Linked DNA regions of Homo sapiens. The protein of the gene in region 1 binds, or shares a complex with, the protein of each later gene. Each region holds a gene or a part of one and is shown on either strand. Other genes may lie near its edges. The genes, in order: BCAS2 and RBM22.

What was found.
Region 2: BCAS2 (region 1) and RBM22 share a complex: the UniProt entries of both Homo sapiens proteins name them as parts of the postcatalytic spliceosome P complex.

The regions. Positions count from the first base shown.
Region 1 is NC_000001.11:114,566,852-114,571,702, forward strand, and holds the end of BCAS2 (pre-mRNA-splicing factor SPF27), read right to left. Parts: intron 3,900-4,851; coding exon 3,849-3,899; intron 3,222-3,848; coding exon 3,141-3,221; intron 1,406-3,140; coding exon 1,279-1,405; 3' UTR 706-1,278; downstream 1-705. UniProt on the Homo sapiens protein: Required for pre-mRNA splicing as component of the activated spliceosome. Component of the PRP19-CDC5L complex that forms an integral part of the spliceosome and is required for activating pre-mRNA splicing.
Region 2 is NC_000005.10:150,690,771-150,698,062, reverse strand, and holds the end of RBM22 (pre-mRNA-splicing factor RBM22), read left to right. Parts: intron 1-1,171; coding exon 1,172-1,272; intron 1,273-1,357; coding exon 1,358-1,530; intron 1,531-2,356; coding exon 2,357-2,557; intron 2,558-3,822; coding exon 3,823-3,987; intron 3,988-4,755; coding exon 4,756-4,844; intron 4,845-5,036; coding exon 5,037-5,168; intron 5,169-6,181; coding exon 6,182-6,312; 3' UTR 6,313-7,271; downstream 7,272-7,292. UniProt on the Homo sapiens protein: Required for pre-mRNA splicing as component of the activated spliceosome. Involved in the first step of pre-mRNA splicing.

The DNA.
Region 1 (4,851 bases):
CTGTCGCCAGGCTGGAGTGCAGTGGTGCAATCTCGGCTCACTGCAACCTCTGCCTCCTGGGTGTAAGCGATTCTCCTGCCTCAGCCTCCCGAGTAGCTGGGACTACAGGCGCATGCCACCATGCCCAGCTAATTTTTGTATTTTCAGTAGAGATGACGTTTCACCATGTTGGCCAGGATGGTCTCGATCTCTCGACCTCGTGATCTGCCCACCTCAGCTTCCCAAAGTGCTGGGATTACAGGTGTGAGCCACTGACCTTGCAATAATTTTCAGTCAGTCTTTATACATTAAGACTACCTTGCTTCGTTTGAGACAGGGTCTTGCTCTGTCACCCAGGCTGGCGTGCAGTGTCACAATCATAGCTTATGGTGGCCTTGAACTCCTGGACACAAGTGATCCTCCTGCCTCAGCCTCTCAAAGCACTGGGATTACAGACGTGAGCCACCACACCTAGCAACACTACCTTTTGATATGTTGCAAATATTTTTTCTGAATTGGGCAGGAATCTTTTACACAATTTAATTCCTTACAAGTAGAGAAGTAAGAACATTAACTCTGGAGCTGGACTATTGGGTTCAAAACCTGACTGACAACTTTCTATAAAAAAGCTGACACTTTCAGCTATAAAACTCTGGCAAGTTATGTTATTTAACTGGTGTCTGTTACATGTCCACATATGAGAAAAACAGTAACCGCCTCCTGAGGTTTTTGTGAGGACCAAATAATTTTTATTCACATACATCTAGTTCATCTACCTAAAGTGTTCAGAACAATGTTCAGCACATATTAAGCTTGATATAACTGTTACCTATGATGATGACGATGATGATGATAATGATAACTGTACAGTCACTGTCTTTCTGAAGTTGTTTGGTGATCAAGAATGTGTTTAGAACTATCTCTTTATTAGACAAAGTCATAAACCAAAAATTTCCAACTTCCTGTACATGTTGAAAGCTTTAAATAAGGATCCTTGGATACAAAATATGGTCCACATGGCTGAAAATTAATTCTATGACACAATATTATTCTAAAGTCATCCTTATTTTGAAAGCCTAAAGATTTTCTTTTATGGCTATAAAAATACCACCAAGCTAGACATTTTAATTCTGTTGAGATATACAAATAGAATTACCACAGCAGCCTACACCTTCTATGATTTCTAAACACTTAAACATCAATGGTTTTGGGAAGATGCTGTTGTCCTTCAAAGTTCATTAAAAGTTCAGATGCCTTTTGTGAAAGCCCAACTTTTCTTCTACCTGCTAAATTGTCTTTTCAGAAGTCTTGCCGGATGTTTTCTTTGTTTGCCTCTCCATGTTGCTGCTTAATTTGATAGATTTCATTTTCTAGCTGAACAATAGTCCGTTCAATCTCATAATTCTTACTGACCAGGGATACCCAACTAGAATGGGGGGGAAGAAAAGAAAAAAATTACTCAATGTAAAACTTCTCTTAGAAGATTTTATTTTAAATGTATACACATGTTCACCCAGAGCTATAACACTAACCTTCACTTTTTTTTTTTTTTTGAGACGGAGTCTCGCTCTTGTTGCCCAGGCTGGAGAACAATGGCGCAACCTCAGCTCACTGCAACCTCCGCCTCCCGGGTTCAAGGGATTCTCCTGACTCAGCCTCCCGAGTAGCTGGATTACAGGCACACGCCACCACAGCTGGCTACTTTTTTGTATTTTTAGTAGAGATGGGGTTTCACCACGTTGGCCAGGCTGGTCTCAAACTCCTGACCCCAGGTGATCCACCCACCTCGGTCTCCTAATGTGCTGGGATTACAGGCATGAGCTACCATGCCTGGCCTAACCTTCACTTTCAACTTTCCATTAAAAAAAAATCAAGGCACAATTGTGGAAAAGTAGGTAAAGGGTACATGGAATCTCTCTGTATTCTTTTTTTTTTTTTTTTTTTTTTTTCCAGAGACAGGGTCTTGCTCTGTTGCCTAGGCTGAAATGCAGTGGTGTGATCACAGCTCACTAGCCTGGAACTCCTGAGCTCAAGCAATCCTCCAACCTCAGCCTCCTGAAGAGCTTAGACTACAGGTGCATGCCATCATGCCTGGCTCATTTAAAAGCATTTTTTTGTAGAGACAGGGTCTCGTTATGTTGCCCAGGCTGGCTTGAACTCCTGGCTTCAAGCAATCCTCCTACCTTGGCCTACCAAGGCACTAGGATTACAATGTGAGTCACCACACCTGGCTCTCTGTATTATTTCTTACAATTGCATGTGAATCTATAATTATCTAAAAATAAAAGTTTAATAAAAAAGCAAATTAGAAACAGATGAGAGAACTTGCAAACCAGAAGAAAGAGGAAAGAGTGATGAAGATAGTATTTAATCAACAAAAAGGAAAGAGGCAATAGTTTATTAAATTGAGGAAAAAGCGTGAAAGGGTACCAACGAGACTGGTAAGACGTACATGGAGACGGTGGAACAAGAATGACTTGAGTAATGAAGGGAGAAAGGGAATGGCCAAGCAAAAAGGAAGAGAGAAATGACACAAATATTCAAGATTATATTGTATAAAGGTATACATGTGTGTATGTAAAAGAACATTTTTAAAAATGCATAAACCTGAGGTACAAAAAAATTACCAAGTATGAAATCTCCCTCCCTACAAGATTTTATAAAATAATTTTTTTCCTTTTTTTTTTTTTAAAGACTAGGTCTTGCTCTGTTGCCCAGGCTGGAGTGCAGTGGTGTGATTATGACTCACTGCAGCTTCAACCTTCCAGGTTAAGCAATCCTCCTGCCTCAGCCTCCAGAGTAGCTGGGACTACAGACATGTGCCACCGTGCCTATTTTTTTTTTTTTTCCGTTTAAAAGGAGAATAAAGGTAGAGTTCTATTCAAGGCCAAAAATACTAGACTAAAAACAGGGTATTCTAAGACCAGAATCCTTTAGCAATGGTTCAATTTAGCAAAGGATCCTTCGCCAATGGTTCAATTCTCGTTTATAGTTCTCTTTAACACCTTATAAAGAGGCAGAGACGGGGAAGGGTGAATTCAGAAAATAGCATTTCTTTGTTACCTGTGGCATCCCATTTGAATGCTATTTGAATCATATTATTGAATCGACCTTAGAAAGGGCTAAACAATTTAAAAGATGATGGAATTATAGATACTCACTTTGACTCCATTTCTCTCAATTTAGATCCAGCTGTGAGTTGCATGTTCTTTCTCTGCCAGTTTAAATCTTGAATATGTTTTCTGTAAAAAATTATTTATACAACCCAATTACATTTTAATGTAAGACCTAAATCAACAGAAAACTCTATAACACAAGAGAATATCTTAATCCCATGAGAACAATATTATGTACAGTTATAGGCTAACTGTAGAAATTACCTTTCTTCTAATTATTTTTTGATTACAAGTTTCATAAAACATGCTCATTGTGAGAAATCACACACACACACACACACAAGCACACACAGATTACAAGTCTCAAGTCCCCCCTCTCATGCATGTCTCCTTTTTCCTGATAACTCCTGTTGAGTTTTTGCTGGGTGTCCTTCCAGGCTTTCCTATATGTGTGTGTAGAAATTGGTTTTAAAAATCAGATTATATGTGTTATTCTGCAACTTTTCCCACTCTAAAAGTGCCTTTCTATGTTTGCAGACTTGCAAGCTGCAAGTGGCAGAGATGTTTTCAGACCTCAGGCCTATTTCTCCTCTACTTAGGTAGGGCAAACCCAGTGTCAGATGTTGAACAAAGAGAGTGGATCAATTGTTTACTTTCATCTGGCTGCAGTCTCTTTGCTTTCTTTTTCCTCCTATTTTCTATTTATTAAAGGTTCACTTAAACTTCATTCTGTAATAGGAAAAAACAATTTACCTTAACTTCTGAAGTTCCTTCTGTGCGTGTTCAATCATATGAACTAGATTTCTGAAGGAAAAGAGGAAAATCAGATTAAAATACATTAAAATAGTACCAATTAAAAGTGAACTTTTTCAAGTTTTTCTGCCAAAAATCATATTTATGGAGCTCTGTGCCAAGAACTATGTTGGACACTCCATAATCGAGGACTGTCACTCATGCTGGAATGCAGTGGTGTGATCATGGCTCACTGCAGCCTTCACCTCCCATGATCAAGTAATCTTCCTGCCTCAGCCTCCCAAGGAGCTGCAATCCTCCCACCTTGGCCTCCCAAACTGCTGGGATTACCATGCCCTGCCTGATCTTGGAGTACTTAGGTTACTTTTTTTTTTTTGAGACAGTCTCGTTCTGTTGCCCAGGCTGGAGCGAAGTGGTGAGATCTCAGCTCACTGCAGCCTCTGCTTCCTGGTTCAAGAGATTCTCCTGCCTCAGCCTCCCAAGTAGCTGGGATTACAGGCATGTACTGCCATGCCTTGCTAATTTTTGTATTTTTTTTTTTAGTAGAGATGGGGTTTCACTATGTCGGCCAGGCTGGTCTCGAACTCCTGACCTCAAGTGATCCATCTGCCTCGGCCTCCCAAAGTGCTGAGATAACAGGCGTGAGCCACTGTACCCAGCTTTTTTTTGCGGAGGGGAGGGACAGAGTCTTGCTCTCCTGTTGCTCAAGCTGGAGTGTAGTGGTGCAATCATGGCAGCCTCAACCTCCTGGGCTCAACTGATCCTCCCACTTCAGGCCTTCAAAGTAGCTTGGATTACAGGCATAAGCCACCATGCCCGGCTAATTTTCATTACTTTTTTGTAGAGACAGGGTTTCACCACGTTGTCCAGGCTGGTCTTGAACTCCTGGGCTCAAGCAATCTCCCCACCTCAGCCTCCAAAGTGTTGGAATTACATGTGTGAGCCACACGGCCTTTTGTCACTTCTTAAACTGTCATGACTTCTTGTCATAGAAAAGATGGAA
Region 2 (7,292 bases), on another chromosome or scaffold:
GCAACTTCGAACTCCTGGGCTCAAGGGATCCTCTTGCCTCTGCCTCCTGGTATACCACCACACCCAGTGCACGTGTGTGTGTGTGTCACTATTTTGCCCAGGCTGGTTTTGAGCTTCTGGCCTCAAGCAGTCCTCCCACCTTGGCCTCCCAGAGCCACTATAGCCAGCCTAATTGTGCTTTAGACTTTTATTTCAATTGTGTTGTTAGAACTGATATATTGCTACTGTTTCAGAGTAACTGCTTTTGGGAGTAATTTTTTTTTTAACCATAGGTGACTGTTTTTCAGAAAGATAATTTTTCAACAAGAGTTTTTACTATTAAAGGAAAGGGAAAAATATATGAGTTTATGTATGTTAAGTTCATTAGAGTTACTCTTCTAGTCAGAGTCCTGGCCACATTTTATGTAATATTATTTATATGTTTGTTAAGGAGGCGTCTGGTCCTGGAGTACAGTGACCCTTAGATGACTGTGACTATCCAGAGGATCTGTAAGACTAACCTAGAAAGAAACCACTTTTACATTTACTTTAAATAAATCATGTTGTAATAAAAACTAGGAGCTAATTTACAGGTTGAATATGACCATGGGCACAGTTTGTTCATCTAAAAATTTTCTTTTATAATTTTTTTGTTTTTTGTTTTTGAGACAGGGTGTCACTCTGTTGCCCAGGCTGGAGTGCAGTGGCATGGTCATGGCTCACTGCAGCCTTAACCTTTCCAAGCTCAGGTGATCCACCTCAGCCTCCTGGGTAGCTAGGACTACAGGTGCATACCACCACACCCAGCTAATTTTTGTATTTTTTGTAGAAATGGGGTTTCACCACGTTGACCAGGCTGGTCTCGAACTCCTGGACTCAAGCTATCTGTCAGCTCCAGCCTTGCAAAGTGCTAGGATTACAGGCATGAGCCACCACACCCAGCCTAAAAGATTTTTTCTAAAGCATTAATTTCATCAAATTTCCTGACAGTTCAGGAATTTGGACAATTTCTTAGCATGCTGTGTAGCAGAAGTAACCTGATGGTGCTAAAGAGTTTGAATAAAAACATAGTAAAGTCTCTGGTACTAAATAGGAAAGAGGAGAAGGGAAAGATGATGTATTCTGTGTGCATGGTTAGTATGGATATGTTTTAAAATACATCTGAGGTCTTTTTCCTCTTTTTTTGTACCAGGCCTGCCCATCCAGGTTCGTGACGCAGGATTGTCTTTTAAAGATGACATGCCAAAGTCAGATGTCAACAAAGAGTACTATACACAGAATATGGAGAGAGAGGTATGCTGCCACTTTTTGGATAAAAATCCTAATGAATTGACACAGTCTGTATAATTTATCTTTTGAATTTGTCATCCCCACTTAGATTTCTAACTCTGATGGAACACGGCCAGTTGGCATGCTGGGGAAAGCCACATCTACCAGTGACATGCTGCTCAAACTGGCCCGGACCACACCCTACTACAAAAGGAATCGACCCCACATTTGCTCCTTCTGGGTGAAAGGAGAGTGTAAGAGAGGAGAGGAATGTCCATACAGGCAAGAGCGAGCCTCATTTTCAGTATTTGCTTTCAGATGATTTCTCATCTAAGAAGTGGGAGGTCCTAACTTAAACTGTTTCTGCTTTAAAATCTAAAGGTCATACAACTAATGTGGTATACCTCATGTCTTAGAACTATGAAATTTAGAAGAGCATGAATAAATTGTAGTTTTTACTTACAATTGAGCCTTGGAAACTAAATTGCTATGCCATACAATATAGATGCTGACCCTAAACATTTCTGCCTGAGAAGTAAATCTTCACTGCCATGGTTTAAATGAGTTGACTCTCAATGTATAGTTGAAGTCAAAGTAAGGTCAGACTTCTAAAGGGTGTGTATGTTTTGGTTAAGACTGCCAAGCATCTGGATTAGGAGTTCTTAATTTGGGATTGGTTAACCCCACCCCCTAAAAAATAATGTATGTGCTTTCTCTGGGGCGAGGTTCATAGCTTTAATCAGATTCTCAGTGGAATACAGCACCCCAAATGTGTTAAGAATCATTGACCTAGAGAGGGGTAATCATGTGTCCCTTTCTGGGGGGCGGGAGGGGGTGGATCATGTCAAGAGTATTTATTTATAAGGAAAGTTTGGCATCCTAGATGGCCTAATGGCTTTTAGGAGGCTAGTAATTCCTTCCGTGATACAGTAAATCTCTTGGTATTAGGTCTATTTTGGTAATTATATTTTGGTAGAAACCATAGTTTCTAGTTCAAAAGGCACTTCAGAATATGTATCTAGGACTTTAATATGTAGCTACTCTTGGAAGATAATCATTTTTTCACCTTCGTTTCACCTTTATGCCTTGTTTTTTTCTTGAATCATAGACATGAGAAGCCTACAGATCCAGATGACCCCCTTGCTGATCAGAATATTAAAGACCGTTATTACGGAATCAATGATCCTGTAGCTGACAAGCTTCTAAAGCGGGCTTCAACAATGCCTCGGCTGGACCCACCAGAGGATAAAACTATCACCACACTATATGTTGGTGGTCTAGGTGATACCATTACTGAGACAGATTTAAGGTTTGTGGGTATAAGTTAGAGAGTTATTTTTGCCTTTAACTGCCCTGGAATAATTTATTTGCAAAAACTGCAAGAATGATCATTCTGTACAAAATACATTTTTCTGTAGTCTCTCTATTGTTAGTATCATGCTGACTGGAATTTTTGTAAAATTGTCCTTTATGGTGCCACAGTAATAATGTGCTTATGTGGCTGGGCACAGTGCCTCATGCCTGTAATCTCAACACTTTGGGAGGATCTCTTGAACCGAGGAGTTTGAGACCAGCCTGAGCAACATAGTGAGACCACATCTCTACTAAGAAATCAAAAAAATTAGCCGGGTGTGGTGGCATGTGCCTGTAGTCCCAGCTGTTTGGGAGGCTGAGGCAGGAGGATTGCTTGAGCTTGGGAGATCAAGGCTGCAGTGAGCTGTGATTGCACCACTGCACTCCAGCCTAAGCAACAGAGTGAGACCCTGTCTCAGAACCAAAGCTCAAAGAGTGCTTATCCATCCTGGCATATGGTAATAATGACATAGGATTCTATTTGACCTAACAGCCAAGTTTTAAAGGATGGCACGCATCCAAGTATGATGAATTATGTAGAGGAGGGAGAGCTTTGCGATGATAAAACTCTTGTGGTTTAAATTGTTGGTTTTTAAAGAGACTGGCATTTGATAAATTTGTGTTATTTTTGGCTTGTATTATGCTTGGCTAGATGAGACTTCTGGGCAGATAGTAATGGAAATTACCTCTTCCAAAGAGATAAAGTGGAGAAGAAACTCCTGTAAGTTTATAACCTGCCCTTGGTAGCCTGTCTCCATTAAACCCTATCTAAGTGAGCTAGACAACCCCCAGGGGTTGGCAGACTTTCGCTGTAAGAGGCTGGATGGTGAATATTTTAGGCATTGTGGGCCACATGCAGTCTCTGTCACGTATTCTTGTTTTAAACTTTCTTGGCTCATGGGCCTTGAGAGCTATGGTTTGCCAACCTCTTATCTAGGGTTTAGGGTCTTTAAAGAACCTATTAGAACCCCCTTTCCTCCATGGGAAAAAACCCTGAGATGTTTGAGAACCTTTATTTACTCATTATTTTTCTTTCCTTCTCTCAATCAGCAGCACCCACAGTAGGACAAGATATGGGGTGGAGACCTGCGGGTAGTTAGGCAGATAACCTTGGGGCCCACCTGCCTAGTGGTGTGTCAGTGAAAGTTAATCCATTTTCAGTCTCCTGGGTACATCTTTTTTAACTCCCACTTTCATTTTTCTCTGCCTGTTTCCCTTCAGAAATCATTTCTACCAGTTCGGAGAGATCCGGACGATCACTGTTGTGCAGAGACAGCAGTGTGCTTTCATCCAGTTTGCCACACGGCAGGCTGCAGAAGTGGCTGCTGAGAAGTCCTTTAATAAGTTGATTGTAAATGGCCGCAGACTGAATGTGAAATGGGGAAGGTGAGAATTAAACTATTTTTAAGTGACATTTTGCTTAGATTTTTAAGAAACTATTTCATTTTCTGGAGACTAGTAGGCTTTTGGTTAACAGGCTTAAATGAACAGGATCTTTAAAGAGATCTTTCAAAGATCACTCTCTATGTGATACTTGATTCCTGTGGATGTTGGGAGAACCCTGCTTTGGAAATGTATTCAGGGGGTTGGTGTATAATCTACTCCTTTGAAGGTTCATGTTTTTGTGACTAGCTATTATAGGCCAAGTATAATGCCAGGCCATGAAAGGTGAATTTTAGGGTTTATAAATGAATTAGACCTAGATTCTGCCCTTAGAGGCTGATTGTCCAGTGGAGAAGATAAAACAGGGAAGAATCGCTATTTTAAGTTTAAAAGTGATGATTGCATAAGAGAGACACAGGTGAAAGACCCAGTTCAAAGGGGGAACATGTCTCCAACTTGGAACCAGGGAAGTGATGGCTAATAGCAGCATCTGCCTTTGTGGAGCGCTCCCTATGTGGTAAGCACTGTGCTAAACACGTATGTGTTGCCTTTTCTGGTCCTTATGATAGTTCTAGCAGCTTTTGAACCCAGGTCTTTTCTGGTGTCAAAACCTTTGCTCTTGTTCACTGTGCACAGTGGCATTTATGGGAAAAGAGTGTGTGCTGAGGAGGAGGTAGAGCGAAGGAACTCCATTGGACTGGGGAATGTAAGAAGCAGAGGTGTGAGATAAGGTGGGCCAGAGTGCCGACTGTATGCATGTGTGTTTCCCAGATCCCAGGCAGCCAGAGGAAAAGAAAAAGAGAAAGATGGAACTACAGACTCTGGGATCAAACTAGAACCTGTTCCAGGATTGCCAGGAGGTGAGTGCAGACTCCCTGCTGACTTCAGAAGCTCTTTCTGCCCTGATGTTCCTATTTTGGAAGATGGGACCCAGGTCTGGTTCATGTTGCCGCTCTACTCTCCCAGTAGGACCTCTGAGAATGTAAAGGTGGTAGAAACAGCGTTGCACAATTGTTCTCCCCTCTATGTGTTGACTATTTTCTCTCCTCCAGCTCTTCCTCCTCCTCCTGCAGCAGAAGAAGAAGCCTCTGCCAACTACTTCAACTTGCCCCCAAGTGGTCCTCCAGCTGTGGTGAACATTGCTCTGCCACCGCCCCCTGGCATTGCTCCACCCCCACCCCCAGGTAACTTCCATCTTCCTTCTTAGCCCAGAGAAATCCTTGTGAAAGTTCTGTCTCATAAACCTCACCATCATGTTCAACACATCCAAATCCTGTGAGTTTGCTCTGTAGAAGTCTACCAGTAAAGTTGATCTGTTGGGATTTCTGAAATTTTTCTTTCTCCTGCTCTGCCGAGGAGAAGAAAGGGGCCAGTTTTCTAAAGATCCGCGTATATGTGTCAGCAGAGTAAGATTATTAGATTACAAAGATCTATCACCAATTTGTTCCCTTTTCTAAACTAAATGCTAATGGATGCCCTAGAGCACTATTGCCCAGTGTGGGCTGTGAGCGGGTGTCATTTTACAAAGTGTTTATCACCTGTCTGCCACAAGATCAGGAGCTTGTGCCAAAATGTAATCAGTGAACCCCTTCCTTCATTGAGAAAGTCTTGTTACCAAAAAAACTGTCAGATGAACTAAACTGTGCCTGGTCGTATAATTTACATTTTGACTCAAGCTCTTTGTCTTGAGTGGCCAGAAATAGGTGGAGGACTGGCACTTCGTATAGCACTGCTGTAGACAGTGTTAACAGTGGAAGGAAATCACAGGTAGCCAGTTCTCCTGTGGCAGAGAGCCCATACTCTGAAGAGAATCTGGTTTCTGAGCACCCTCCATTCTGGTGTCAAGCATTGAGGTTAATGATGACACAGTCTTTGCCATCAGCCTGATTTCTTTCTTATCTCCCAAATCCTGACTGAATCCTGTCTGGTAGGATTTGGCATGTTGGATACATAGCAGAGACTCAGATGACATACTAGGCGATACCTTGAGTGCTGTGGAGTTTTTTGGACTGTGGGGGAAAGGTTTCTAAAACCAAGGAAATAACAAGTGGAAGTAAGTTTGTGAACTGACATTTGCTTAAGCCCCGTGTCAACCTTGATTTATGTGTAGGTGGTTTTAACCTTAGCAAGATTGAGAGGTTTGAAAGGTTATCAAGGAAACTACCAGCCTAACACATTTGTTCTCTCGTATCTGCAGGTTTTGGGCCACACATGTTCCACCCAATGGGACCACCCCCTCCTTTCATGCGGGCTCCAGGACCAATCCACTATCCTTCTCAGGACCCTCAGAGGATGGGAGCTCATGCTGGAAAACACAGCAGCCCCTAGCACCTTGTCACCACTCTGGGGCTCTGTGGAAGAAAGGGCACTTAAAACTCCCAGTAAATCTTGGAATAAATATATTTTTCCTTCCCTTGTAGTTTCCATGGTAGCTGAATGTGCTCAGATGTGAGCAGTCAGAGACTGACAGCCATGCTTTCCTATACTTGTTCAAAGGATCGATGGACCGTAAATAAGCTGCCATTAACACATCTGGTTACTGCTGTAACATGACTAATAAAACCGAACGCCTGTTCCCCTTACCCGTGTGGGGGACACGCAGATGAGTGAATTGGAATGTCCAGCAGAGTTACCCTCCCAATTATATGTTCATTTTGTATATTTTTTGGTCGGGGGAAAAATTGACCTGCAGTAAAAAAACCTTTGACCATTTTTATGTCCATTGGATACTTTCCTTTTTATCATCTTAAAAAAAGATAACTAGTACTAATCATTGTAGTGGCCTAAGTGTGATTTAACTCTTGAAGTCACACCCTCCGAAAGATGAGTAGAAACCAGCACCAGCACAGCCCAGATCTTCTCTTTCCTCTCCTTTTCCTCATTTATTCCTAAAGGAATCTGACCATTTTACGTCTCTACGGCCCAAAAAAAGACAAAAATAAAAATTCCTTTTTATTCCTGTCAACTGGATGGAAACACAAATTTCATGGAGCTGTGTACCATCGAAGAAACCTGGTGTCTGGCATGAAATTACTGTAAAGAACTTCCTGTAAAACACGTTCTTTAACAAACTGAAATGAAAAGCATTGGAGCGTCTGAATGAAAGACGTGACCTCCTGCTGGGACTCTGATGGTCTTCAGCATTCACCTTCGTGTGTCTTCAGTGTCTCATTGTCATCCCTGCTTCTGTTTGGTCTTAGAGTGTTTGGATATAACTGAATTGTAGATGGTAAAGGAAATTTGATGTGTTTTTTGTTTTTAAATAATTAAAACGGGTCAATTTTTCACATGTTGTCATGGGTTTATTT